3 separate regions of the Homo sapiens genome follow, and all the other regions are linked to region 3. The links come from fine-mapping of genetic effects on gene expression. A gene starts in region 3. Each other region holds a variant in brackets. All regions are shown on one strand. Distances are between the middles of the regions. Region 1 overlaps GCSAM (germinal center associated signaling and motility). Region 2 overlaps TAGLN3 (transgelin 3). Region 3 holds the start of C3orf52 (chromosome 3 open reading frame 52).

What was found. PIP is the estimated chance that this variant, and not a neighbour inherited with it, causes the effect.
Region 1: its variant is the best candidate, but not a certain one, in a credible set for the expression of C3orf52 in lung (TOPMed, PIP 0.69).
Region 2: its variant is the best candidate, but not a certain one, in a credible set for the expression of C3orf52 in fetal neocortex (Walker 2019, PIP 0.50).

What each region holds. Positions count from the first base shown.
Region 1 is chr3:112,125,719-112,129,959 of GRCh38, forward strand. It overlaps GCSAM (germinal center associated signaling and motility), which reads right to left. Exons shown (of 6, transcript NM_152785.5): 3 at 2,299-2,343; 4 at 1,269-1,315. It also overlaps a transcript of C3orf52 not described here. Among named protein-coding and RNA genes, the nearest start is that of GCSAM, 5.4 kb to the right of the region's middle. RefSeq lists an enhancer at 790-1,423. The variant G/A (reference allele first, on the strand shown) is at 1,786.
Region 2 is chr3:112,009,534-112,013,774 of GRCh38, forward strand. It overlaps TAGLN3 (transgelin 3), which reads left to right. Exons shown (of 5, transcript NM_001008272.2): 4 at 2,230-2,332; 5 at 3,877-4,241. The coding sequence ends at 4,018. Among named protein-coding and RNA genes, the nearest start is that of TAGLN3, 13 kb to the left of the region's middle. The variant G/T (reference allele first, on the strand shown) is at 2,211.
Region 3 is chr3:112,084,218-112,088,458 of GRCh38, forward strand. It overlaps C3orf52 (chromosome 3 open reading frame 52), which reads left to right and starts at 2,172. Exons shown (of 6, transcript NM_024616.3): 1 at 2,172-2,328. The coding sequence starts at 2,191. RefSeq lists an enhancer at 1,834-2,350 and silencers at 1,867-1,916, 1,967-2,016, 2,037-2,086.

The sequences.
Region 1 (4,241 bases), 42 kb after region 3:
GCCGTCGTTTCTACTCTAGGTGACGGGATGGTGGTGGTGTGATAATTGGTGTTCAAGGAGTTTTGCAGAGCAGGAAACTCTTAAGCTAAATATTCCCATTCCTATACCTGCTGGCAGATAACAAATGAGCAGGGCGATTTTTCAAAGCCTAGTTAAAACCAAATGGCTCTGGCCATTCAGCAAAGAGGCAAACTGACACCCTTGCTACCCTCTTGCAAACACACCAATTCCATAAACAAACATGTGCCCTCACATGAAAGTCTACAGAGGAAGCTACCATATGGTATATGGATTGACATTCTCTCGGTCCTCACATCCTGGATTTCCACATCTCCATAAGCTCCTATAGGCATCTAAAACTTCCCTGATTATCATTATAAGAAAAGCATCTTCAGCATAGAGTTTTAGCATCTGGTCTTATTTCTATTACGTTTTGCTCTGATGGAAATTGAGGTTCCCTGGGACCCACGACTCCTGGAGTGAAGTGGCTAGGGTGGGAGGCTGTATTATTCATTTACACATCTTGCAGGGCTAGATTTTAAGATTCTATGTAAATGAATTAGGTTCTCCTCTTTAAGGAAGGAAAAGTCAAAACTCTTCCATTTTTCTTCTTCAGAAACACAATGGCTTGTCCTCAGGCCTACACTTTCTTATTTTTATTTTTAGGTGTGATACAATTCATCACACTCTCCTTCTAGAATTCTTTCTCCTTAACTTCAGTGCTATTCTATCACCAGAGACTACTGCACCAGCCTCGTAAGTGTTCTTCTGGTATCTGCTCTTCCGGCTCCTTGCTGCAATTTGTTTTCTGCACAGGAACCTGGGTGATATCTTTAATACAAATCTAATCATACTTGCCCCCGCCTCCCCACTGTGTAAAGCCAGTATCTCCTGCAGCTGTCAGGACAAAGATGAAAATCTTTAACTTGGCCAGGAGGCCCCACCCCTCCCCTATCCCAGGCTGGCTTTCTTGCAGTTTCTTGTAAGTGCCTTTCTCCTCCACCTTTTGTATCCTTGCCCCCAGTTACTGCCTTCAGCCTCCAGGCCTCAGGCACTAACTGAGGAATTTGGAGATTAATGAGCCAATTCCTGCTTCAATGAGCTCACCATCTACTGAGGACAAAGGACATGCAATTGGATACAGTAAAGCAAAATGTGTAGATATTGTAATTGAAATATGCCTAAGGGGCTTTGGGAACATAGAGAAGAAGTAGTTTGGAAATGTAAGTCTTATCAAAAGTGAAAATACTAGGAAATCAATGACTTACTTTCGTTTTGGGAATCTTGCCTCTTTTCAAAAATGAGTATTTTTTTCCTGTAAAAGAAAAGCAAAGCAAATTGTTTTAATATTCAGAAACTCTCAAAGGAAATGACACAAGCCTACAAAACTTACTTTTAACTCTTTGTTAAAGTTATATACCTTTTATAATACCTCCTTCAGCATAGATGAGTTAAGTAAAAAAGAAAAAAGTAAAAGATGAGGCCAAATAGAAATATATTCCTTTGTGCCTCTTTCTCTCTCTCCTCCTCTCTTTCTTTTCTAAATCTGATAGGGAATTGATTTATAGATGGGGAAATATGGTGATAGAGGTTACTTTTTTGGAGACTTTTTTTCTGACAAAGTATCAATTTCTTTTCTATCATGTGAGTGAAGGAGCCAGGATTATTTTCAATCTCAATTCTAATCTATGATCTCCAAAACAAACAAACAAATAAACACACTCTTCGCATAAGGGAACACTGTAAAAAGACTCCCTGAAAAAATGTGATATAAATATAATGGAA[G/A]CCCACTATCGTTTCAGTAGACAAGAACATCTGCTGTGAGGGTAACCCTATGTCCTGGTTTGCCTCAGTCTGGTGAAGGTCATTATCAATCACTTAGCGAGCTTTAACTATTTTTAGCATCCCTTTCACTCTCAAAGGTATCTTAGTTCAGATGATAAATTATACTATCACCCCGACTATAAGTTCTATGTGCAAGGGATAGAAATGTGTGCTTCGGAACATGCAGACTCAGATTTGCAGTGTGAAAAAAACGTATGTTTTCTACGTTAGTAGCTAGTTTCATCTTTGCTTCTGAGGCTTTCCTGTTTGAGGAGAGCATGCGACCCATGAGACTATTGTTCCTGTTTCTCATCAAATTGGAAGGATTGCTTCCCTGATTAACTCTTAGGTGATTGTATCTGGGCTACTGACAGGCTTCCACTGTGGCCACAGACAGTCACAGGTAACTTACAGCAAATACCACATTGAAACCACACTTAGGGAAATAACTCCTAAAAACAACTGTCCACTCACCATGGAAGGCAGAAACACCCTTCAGCGATATGGTGATCCCAGCATCTAAAATACCCAAGAGAGATGGCAAATCATAAGGTTGATTTCTGCAGCTTTGTTAAGGTGACTCCTTTCCTTTTGCCATTTCTGTGGAAAACTTTTTTTCTCCCCGCAAGCGTGTTTCATTCTAGATAACTTGGACACATCTCTCATGGTAGAATGCCTTTGTCTTCCTAGGATGAAGATGATACTATCAAATTCCTAATCAGGAAAAAAGCTTTCTGCTGTGTTCCCAGCAAAGGAAAAATGTTTCCTCACTCTCAATTCTGGTAATTTCCTTGGTTCCCTTGTAATGAAGAACACGTAAGTGTTATCCCCAGGAAATCAAGGTACAAGTGTATGGAAATTTTACAAATCATTTTTTTCAGGTATGGGTTAGGCAATATCAGTATTTTACTATATTCTGAATTTCTCCAATTTACAGTATATTGCAATTGTTTGCTCACTTGTCTATATTCTACACTAGAATGTGAGCTTCACAAAGCTGGGGACCATATTGATCTTGTTCATCGTGGTATGTATTTCCAGTCTATGACACAACATCTGGCACACAGTAAATGGGTTTTCAAAAAATATTTGATGAAGATATGAATACAGAATGAATAGCCAAGGACAGGACAACCCTGGTGCAGGAGGTCAGCAAATCTACCACCTTGACTCCAACGATATAGTTAAATAACAGGACTTCTCTCTCTTATAGCACAAAGGCTTAGAATCTCTCTGCAGTCCTGCATCTACATTAATGTATAAGTATCATTCTGTACATTTTTCTGAATTTGAGGCATAGTCAACTACCTACATGGTTGAATGTGAAAGCCCTTTATAAAGTAGTATCAGTTACAGTATGTAAAAATGTTTGGAAAACACCATCCAAAAATATCTCCCCCCGTGAGCTTTCCCATGAAGTTTCATCAGGAGGAGCAGTGGAGGAGAGGCTGACTGCATCGTGACCTTGGCTGTGATCACCTGCTTGGCTGAGCATTCTGACAACCTCTAAGATCTATGCATCATCAAAGCCTTTGGGGCCCAGAGGCACAGCTGCAGCTCTTCCTCTTCTTTAGGTTACCTTCAATGTGCTTCAGACCGTTTGCTTACATTATCTGCTTTGTTGCTAAGGAAACATCGTAAGAAAACTACTGAATCACACCAAGTTAACAAACCAGATTCACTGAGGAGAAATGAATGAGATAAGAGGAGGGGGATGATTTTGAGAGATATTCTCTGAACTCCTGAGGCCACAGTTTTTAAATCTATAAAAGAGGATGTATATACTGCTTACACATGGAGTTATAAGAATAAGCTGAGGTTAAATATGGGCAAAAACGATCTGTAAGCTGGCTGTTTCTCCTACTTGACTTTTCTGCAGTTTATTCTTGCATTTCAACATGGTGGTTTTGGTTTGGGATGGGTTCAGATAGCCTCCAAGAAGCAAGCTAGACAAATCTCTATACCCTTAGGCTACGTGTCAGGAATTTGAGGTATCTGTCTCTTTCACAATGCCTTCTCTGGCTCTCTGGTCTACCCAACCTCTCCCTTGTTATAATGCCGTGGCCCTTCTGATTTATTTCATCATTTGAACTGTATGCCTTAAAATATGCCCAATGATACCCCTGAAAATATGTAATTCTCAACTTGAACTGAAAAAATTCACCCTGTTGAAAGGAATCTCTGGGTCTCCAGCCCCTAACGCGGGCATTGGTGTTAGAAAATAACAACAGTGCTTGTTTTTTAATTGCTCCTCTTTCAAAATCTCCTCCTGAAACCATGTGAAAAGCACAGATAACTTTACAGGCCACAGAAAAACTGACCTTGTCAGCCCTTAGGATTCTTGGATCCTGGAACATTAGTTCCATATTTTAATTATTCCTTTCCTTAGAGAGAATTCTTTAGGGCTGGACATTTGA
Region 2 (4,241 bases), 75 kb before region 3:
GAGTGGCATGGTGGATTGTTCAAGGGCTTTACATTCAGACAGGTCTGATCTAGAGCTGGGCTCTGTTAACTGATTGGGTGACTCTGGGCATGTTAATTAACCTCTTTGAAATAGTTTTCTCGTCCACACATGAGGAGGAATAATCCCAATTCCATGAGGTTGAGATGACATATACAGTGTCTACCCTATAATTTACATCAAATATCTTGCTTTGGAAAGTTTCTTAAGGAAAAAATTCCAATTTCTTCCTGTCAAATAATGCCCGCTTCCCTAGTGGCTTCTTTCTCAAGTGTAATCACTTCCTTTTCCACTCTCCTGGGATGAGGGTGGAGTTGTGTTGATAGTTCTAGGCTCCTGGATATCTTATCTTAGCCGGCAACTTAGTTCCCTTTGTCCTCTCTGGGTTCATGTAGTAGTCTATATAAGAAGTGTTATATATAACACTTACATATAAGTGTTAGTTCTTATAAGTTCTTATATATAGTCTTATATATAAGAAGTGTTATATAGACTACTACATGAACCCAGAAAGGACAAAGGGAACTAAGTAGGGAACTAAGTGTTGGGAATTTTCTAGATGCAGGGATACCAGGGATGAACTAGCTACTTTGAAGGAGTCTAGTTCTATAGTTTAATAAAACTTTGCTTCTTCATCCGTTGCTCCAGGGTAGTGTCTGTGGGTGATCTGCTGGATGTCAGGCCCCACATTTTCCCAGATCCTGGACATATCAGAATAGCTCTTTCCAACCACCAGAAACAAGTATCCAGGGTGCTCTTTGTAAACAGTAGAGATGAGTGATATACCCTAACCTAAGCCTTCCTTTGCTCATTTATTTCTCTAGGTTCCCTTTAATAGTTCACTGCCTAAGAGCAAGTCCTCTCCCTATCTCTTCACAGAATGAACCTTCAGAATATCATTACTACATTTATATTTTTTAAAAAGTGTCCCATTATATGGTGACAATTACAGAAATGCTTTCACCTGTGGAAGAGTCATTCTAACAACAACTTCTGTGTTTCTTCTTAGTTCTGAATATTCCTTATGCCTTCTCCCTTCTGTCTGCTTCTGAAATACTTCATTCTCCACCACCCCAGTTATTCCTTGAGTCTGGGGGACTATCCATTGACAGCATTTTATCCTTGTATTCACCAACCAGTCCCACAGGGCCTCAGGATTCAGGCAATCACCCTGTGGTTAACATGGGAGGTGGGGGTAGAGGGGAGAGAGGATCAGCTTTCTGTCTCTCCTCTTCGAATAAATGAAGATCCTGAGCTGGACTTCCTCTGAAGGCCTTAATTGTTTATTTTATTACAGTTCATACTCCATTCTCACTTTCCATCTGCCTTTCCCCTGTAATTCTGTATTCCCCAGAGACTGAGCTGCAGCAGCTGGGCCAAAAAACTGCAGACGGTTCACCAGGTCTAAAGAGAGCCTTAATATTTGCCCTTAACTTTCACAGTTCCCCGCCAGGTTAGATGCTGCCTTCCCTTTTAACCCTATGCTTTTTAGCTTTTGTATTCCACACTGGTGCCTTGCATGGACTTTTGGTCTGATTCTAAATTGCAGGCCACCCCCTCAGTAGCATCTTCTCAGTTTAGGACAGGTCAGTCAACTGGAAGAGAAGAAAGGAGAAAGAATGGGAGGAAAGGCTGAGTTGTAAGGCCCAGTTGCTTTCTCCATGGGTTAATGGTCACTGGGCTGCTTAGGTAACAGGGCTCCCCATCCCACTGTGCAGGGGCCACACTGCACATCCCTCTCCCTTGCTCTCCTCTCTGTCACACACAAGCCAGTTGTTTATTGTCTCCATTTAGCTGTTTTCAAGCGGCACAAAATAAAGGCCCTATCACTTGTGTCACATTGAGTGCTTTCTGTGTTGATTTGCTGTTCTTCATTTGCCAGGCCTCTGGCCCAAAGAGCAAAGTGAATACTCAATTTGATGCACATGGATGATTTTATTTATACAGCAACTATGAACGGATTAGAAACTTGGTATCTCTGGTATGTACCATATAGAGAATAATTAACCAGGTTACTTTTTGTTCCTTTCTGAGAAGTTTGGGTATGGTTGTCTTAGGGCCACTTTGGGAGGTGTTTGATAGCACTGCTCCCTTGAATCTGGTCACCTGCAGCCTTCTATCAGAACTTCCCTCCTGGGTGTCCAGCCGTATCCTTCCAGCATTCCTTGGCTCTGACACGTGCTTGGCTTTAA[G/T]CTCTTTGTTGGCTTCCAGGGAAGGACATGGCAGCTGTGCAGAGGACCCTGATGGCTTTAGGCAGCGTTGCAGTCACCAAGGATGATGGCTGCTATCGGGGAGAGCCATCCTGGTTTCACAGGTAAAAGCCTCTTCCTTGCCCCCTGGACCACAAGGCGATTTTAACCAGAGGGAGGGTCTGAAGCCTTGGAACTCTACAGAGGCTTTATGTGCAAAGCCCCAGGACCAAGCACTGCTGTCTCCACAACTGAGTTCCCCAAAGCAATGAAAGACTGATGCTTCTGTACAGGCCAGTAACCTAACCAGAGCAGAAATGGTTGGGCCTTTTCTACCAGATACCTCCCAGCTCCACCCAGGTTCTGTTTCTCCTGAGGCTCAGCAGGACTGGATGGCCTTTCTTGAAGGTGGCTTCATGTCTGAACTTGGCTTTATTATGACTTAAGCCAGCTCTGAGCTTTCTTGCCTGCCTGGCTGCTTCCCTCCCTCCCTCCCTCCCTCCCTCCCTCCCTCCCTTCCTTCCTTCCTTCCTTCCTCCTTCCCTCCCTCCCTCCCTCCTTCCTTCCTTCTTTTTTGTTTGTGTACTTAATAAAGGGTAAATATGTCATGTTTGTTTGGAACAGTCATGGTTAATATCTATGTTGTCCCAGTATATCTATTAATAGAACTCTCTTTCACTCTCAACAGCGTCCTAGTCCGGATGACAAATTATATGGTTATCTCTCAGTAAAGGGTCTTTTTTTAAAATGATTTTTTTTTCAGGGGGTAGGGTAGGCAGGAAGCTTAAACTGGGTAATTTAGTTGTAGAAGAGTGCCCTGTGGCAAATAATTGATTATTCATTTCCAGCATCCCCTTTTCTTCTCCTTGACAGTTATTAAAAAAAAAAAAGTTACCAGCTTATGTCATTTTAAAGAACACTCGCCCTGAAAACTTCTGAGAGGTTGGCCATTTGAAACCCTGGTTTTAGTGTCTGTATTATTAGTGAACTACCGTGTTCCCATGTGGCTACACAACCACAATTATGTACTATCTGGCTCTTTACCAAAGTTTGCAGACCTCTAATCTAGAGTGCGACATTTCCCCTCATTAACTCTTAGGTCCCTTGGCTCTAAAAGGGTATATTCATCTTGGCCCTATACAGGGAAAGGGGGAATGGGATTAATGATGTGCTTTGTAAGAAGAACCAATTTTAATTTTCACAAAGGCTTGACGTAGCTGTGAGAGAAAGGGTAAGAAGAAGCAGGCTTCTTCTTAGAAGTCTGAGATGGCCTAAAGTGGTGGGGGAAGAAGGGAGAGTGGGGAGAAAGAGAAACAAGAAAAGCTGAGAGTGAATTCCCCAGAGAGGTAGCCACTGATTCTGCCCTACTCTTTGCTGGAATTCTGGAAAACACCTGGGCTTCTAAAAGATAGGGAGCTCATGCATCATGGTAGGGCCACAGCTCAGGCTAGGGCCAGAGATAGCTCAGAGTAGCGCCACGGCTCAGGGTAGGTCCACAGTGCAGGGTAGGGCCATAGCTCAGAGTAGGGCCATAGCTCATAACCACAGCTCAGGGTAGGACCTGCTGATCTATTTGGGGACCCCCAGCAGAGCCTGTCTAATTGCATATCTTGAAAAGGATTGGAAAACTGTCATAATGACATTATTCCCTCTCACTTTCCTTGTCCAGGAAAGCCCAGCAGAATCGGAGAGGCTTTTCCGAGGAGCAGCTTCGCCAGGGACAGAACGTAATAGGCCTGCAGATGGGCAGCAACAAGGGAGCCTCCCAGGCGGGCATGACAGGGTACGGGATGCCCAGGCAGATCATGTAGGACGCGGCATCCTGCCCCTGGTAGAGAGGACGAATGTTCCACACCATGGTCTCTACGAAAAAGAAATAGTTAGTCACCTTCTGACCTTCTCCTCTTTCTCAAAGCCTTCTGTCCCTGGTTTTTGCAAGTGCTGCATTTCCGCCGAGAATCCGCGTTGCCTACTGCTGCCACCTCCTGTTCATTTAGAACTATGCAAAGACTCCGCTTCCGTTTTCCTGAGCTC
Region 3 (4,241 bases):
GAAAACATATTGAATCAAGGGTTAGTGCTGGGTGCTAAGGGTCGGGGGAGAGTGGGTATTAGCCACAAAGACACAGTCAGGGAATGTAATGGAGCATTTACTGAGATCCTTTCATTTTTCAGGCACAGGAATAAATTCTTTACCTTAATCTTCCTGACTCTGCTAGGTAGGAATCATTTTATAAGAAAACAAGCAGACATTGAACAGCTTGCCCAAGAACACACAGATAGTGAGAGTCTAAATTTGATCCTAGTTCTGTCTGCCTTCAGAACTTATATTCCTTCCACTGTAACATGAGAACAAGGGTTAGGCATATGGAATTATAGAAATGCATTTAAATCTAATTACAGAGTATATAAACCTTGCTTAACAGTACTCAAAAGGCATTAGAAGATGTGGTTTAGGGTGTGCTTGAGACAGGAACAGTTGCTTTTTGATTCTCTGGGGGAGTGAGGGAGGCTTTAGGTATCTGTGCATGGAGAAATCAGGCATGGAGATAGCTACTATCCATCTGAAGTGAGAAAAAAATCTCACATTTAGGATGAACTTCTGCAATCAAATAAGGGAACTATGAGAAAAGTTTTCTGGACCCTGGGTAAGGATGGGGGTGGGGAGAATCAGAAGTTTGAGAGGTGTCAGTGCTTCCAGTCAGGTCTGCATGTTTTCGTGACTACAGATCCTATCAAGACCTCCCTGCAAATTCCCACACCCTTCAATGGCTCTAGTTCTTTATCAGTCTCCAGTCCCTTTTAGGCCTAGGAGTGTTAACAGCTTCTCGCTATTGCTAGTCCCTGGGTACGTCACCATGCCTTGTTGATTCCCTTAACCCTTGCTCCTTGGTTAAAAAACCTGTTCAAAAATCCCAGCTGAGAATGCAGCCTGATTCTTGCAAGATCCACCTGTTGGAGCAGAAGTCAGTGCAGGTCAGCAGATGAGTCACTGCAGACTCCCCTTAGCAGGCAGATGGATCCAAAGTTCAGGGGATCTGGTAGCAGGCATCAGACTGCTGGAGACAGGATATCTAGGCTGTGTCTCAACATCAGGTACTGAAGATGCCAGACTTTTGGACTCAAGTCAACATATTTGGAGTGGAGCTGATTTATATGCTTCTTGTTAATGGTCTGGTCTTAATGTGTGTGTGTGTGTGTGTGTGTGTGTGTGTGTTGCGTGGAGGGTGAGAAGTAAGGAGCAAGACTATTCGGAACAGAAGCTTGAGAGTTGAGGCCCTTGGCCCAACCCATGCTGTGCTTAACAAACATAATTCCATGCTAACTAAACCGGAAGTTCTGAACTACAGATAGGGTGTCAAGGAGATTGTGTGTGCGCGTGCATTGTGTGTGTGTGTGTGTGTGTGTGTGTGTAAGGCCCCTCCTCTCAAAGATAAATAATAATGGTCATTTATGAGTGCTTGCTGTGTCAATCACTGTTCTGAGTGCTTTGCTTACAACAACCCTTGTAATCCTGGTAACAACTACATTTAGGAGGGTACAAATATTACACCAACTTTCCAGATGAGGACGTTGGCACAGAGAGATGAAGACCGAGGTCTCACAGTGAGGAACCCTCTGGGTGGAGAATAACCCAGGTACACTGGTTTTAGAGTCCGCTGTCCCCAGCACCACACAATACTGTCTCTGTGCCTGACTCTGGACTTGCGAGGAAGTGTGTTGGTGTATATTATTCACCTTCATGCACTCAGAACCTAGCACCATGCTGGCACGAGGCATGGTTATTTGTTGATTGAATGAATGCACTTTTGCTAGGCCGCGAGGACTGTGGCAAACCCCAACAACCAACAGTTCGTAGGGTTAGATCGCAAACTTTTCTCCGTTGGACGGTGCTGCCGGGCCCACCCTTTCCTTACCACAGCCCGGCACCCAGGCAGCCCCTAAACGGAGATGGTCTGCATCTGCAGGCGCGGGGAAAGGCATAGCAGGCAGCGCCCTGAACAAATCAGAAAAACAGCCTTCGGCTCTGGAGCCCACTCCGGCACGGCCTCAGGTGCTCTACCCCGCGGGATCCAGGGAGTGGCCGCCACTCACAGTTGCCCCTCCTGTCCGCTCCGGTCCGCTCCCGCCGCCCGAGGTCCGCGACGCCCCGCCCAGTGGGTGGAGTGTGAGGCGGGGAGGTCGCTCGACTCGCCGGCGCTGTGGCCTCCCGCGGAGCCGCTCAGACTTTCCCTGCCGGCACATGGACCTGGCCCAACCCTCACAGCCAGTAGACGAGCTGGAGCTCTCGGTGCTCGAGCGGCAGCCAGAAGAGAACACGCCTCTCAATGGTGCCGACAAGGTCTTCCCTTCTTTGGACGAGGAGGTCCCCCCGGCCGAGGTAAGGTCCCCTTGGCGCTGGCCCTAACTTGCCGGCGGCGGGACAGTAGTAGGACCCGGGCCTGGCACCCGCGAGTTTCGGGTTTCCAGTCAGGCGGGGCGTCGACGGCGCCGAGCGAGGGTGGGGCGCGCTCGAGTGCTCTGAATGGAGCCGAGTCACCGCGACACCTTTCGGCCCGAGCAGTCCCCTCCCCAGCCCCTGGGGTCCTCCAACCCCTCTGACCCCCGAGGCGCTTTAGGAATCCTAGTGGTGAGGTGTGGCCGCTGCTGTCTTCAGAGAGGTATTCCGGAGATGGAAGTAGTTTTTTAAAGTTATGTAACTTTTAATTCAGTTTTTCTTTTTTCCAGTAGGGAGAATGAGAATGACAAATTGAGTATCCTCCTTCTCTCAGAATCTCTTCTGTCCTCCTCTTACCTTCACTGCCTTGCCACTTCTCTCCCTCCCCTCCACCCACCTCGCCGCAGCCCCCAGCCTTCTTCCATGCCTACCATCCGCCAAGCACTTTCTGCCTTCTCCCAGCCTGGCCATTGGATTCTGCCGGAAGAGAGATAGGGGAGAGCACAGAGGAGAGAAAGCGGTCAGAAGGGGAGAAGGGGTAGGGCTGGCGTAGAGATGGGGCGGGCGGGTTAGGGGGTCGGCGCGGGGGAGGTGAACTTGCCCTGCTCAATTGAAAGAAAATAATTTCAAAGTTCTTGTCTCGAAGGTTGAGACTTCGCCCACCTTGCTTTTACCTCCTCTCAATCCCTAAGGAAGTCCCTGGCTATTTTTAGGCCAAGCTCTTTTCTGATTCATCCCTAGCAATGATGGGAACATTATTCACTCTCATCAAAGACTTGTAAAACATCAGAGCTTTGACTTCCCAGCCATCCACCTTCTGATTAACTCCTAAGATTGGCTTGAGGTTTTCTGGGTGCACAGAACTCCCCATATAGAGCCCCGACCTGATCTTTCTAGGCCCCACTCCTCCACCCCCAACTTTTTGGCTGCCCAGCTGTTGATTTTAGGGATAAGCAGGAAATTCAAAAGTTGAAAGCATTGCTTTTGTTCTACATTGATTCCTGGAACTATTGCAAAGTCTGCTTTTATAGGTACTCTGGAGAGTAATTTGGAAACTTATTTCTGAATAAAATATGAATGCCACAGAAGAATGAAGGTTGAACAAAGATAGTCTGGTCACCAGTGCAAGTGGCCACAACTGTGAACTGGCTGTATGAGTCCTCCAGGGCGGTGTCCAGGAATGGGAGTTGGAAATACTTGCCTCAGATTAGATGGACCCGCACACCCTAAAGACTCCCTAGCTTGGGGCTGAATCCAGAAATCTGGTGACAGTTTTGCCACTAAGAAGTGTGTCCCAGAGGCAAGCCTGTCCCGTAGTGGTAATGTGTGCCTACTCGGCCTTCTGTGAGGCCTGGGAATGCCTTGTTGAAAACAGGTGGTGGGTAGAACAAGCCAAATCCATGCAGGGTTATCAGTATTCTGTAATTGTTTAGCACCTACCCTGTAGCAATGGTTCTTTAATGTTCTCATGACGTCCTTGTTAGTAAGGTATATACAGATACCCTGGACTTCTTTGTAAGTTAGCTTTGTAGGTCACCCAATAGGAGAGCTGTCCTCAGTAACAGGATGGAGTGAAGGTGAAGGGCTACAGGAGTACTTGGAGTGTGTTCAAGGAATGCCTTGAACTAATCTCATCTAATGTGTTAATCATTCTCTTTTGTCCTATAAAATAAAGTGAAGTGTATTTCAGTTAGAAAAGTCAATAAATATAGGCTCATTAAAAAGATTCAGACACTTAAGAATTTTGTGTGTTGGTCTCTTTGAACTGTATATTAAGATTTCTAATTTTGAAATGTAGCTGAAGTCCATGTATTTTCATTAACCCTGTTTAGTAACTGTCTTGTGACAAATACTTT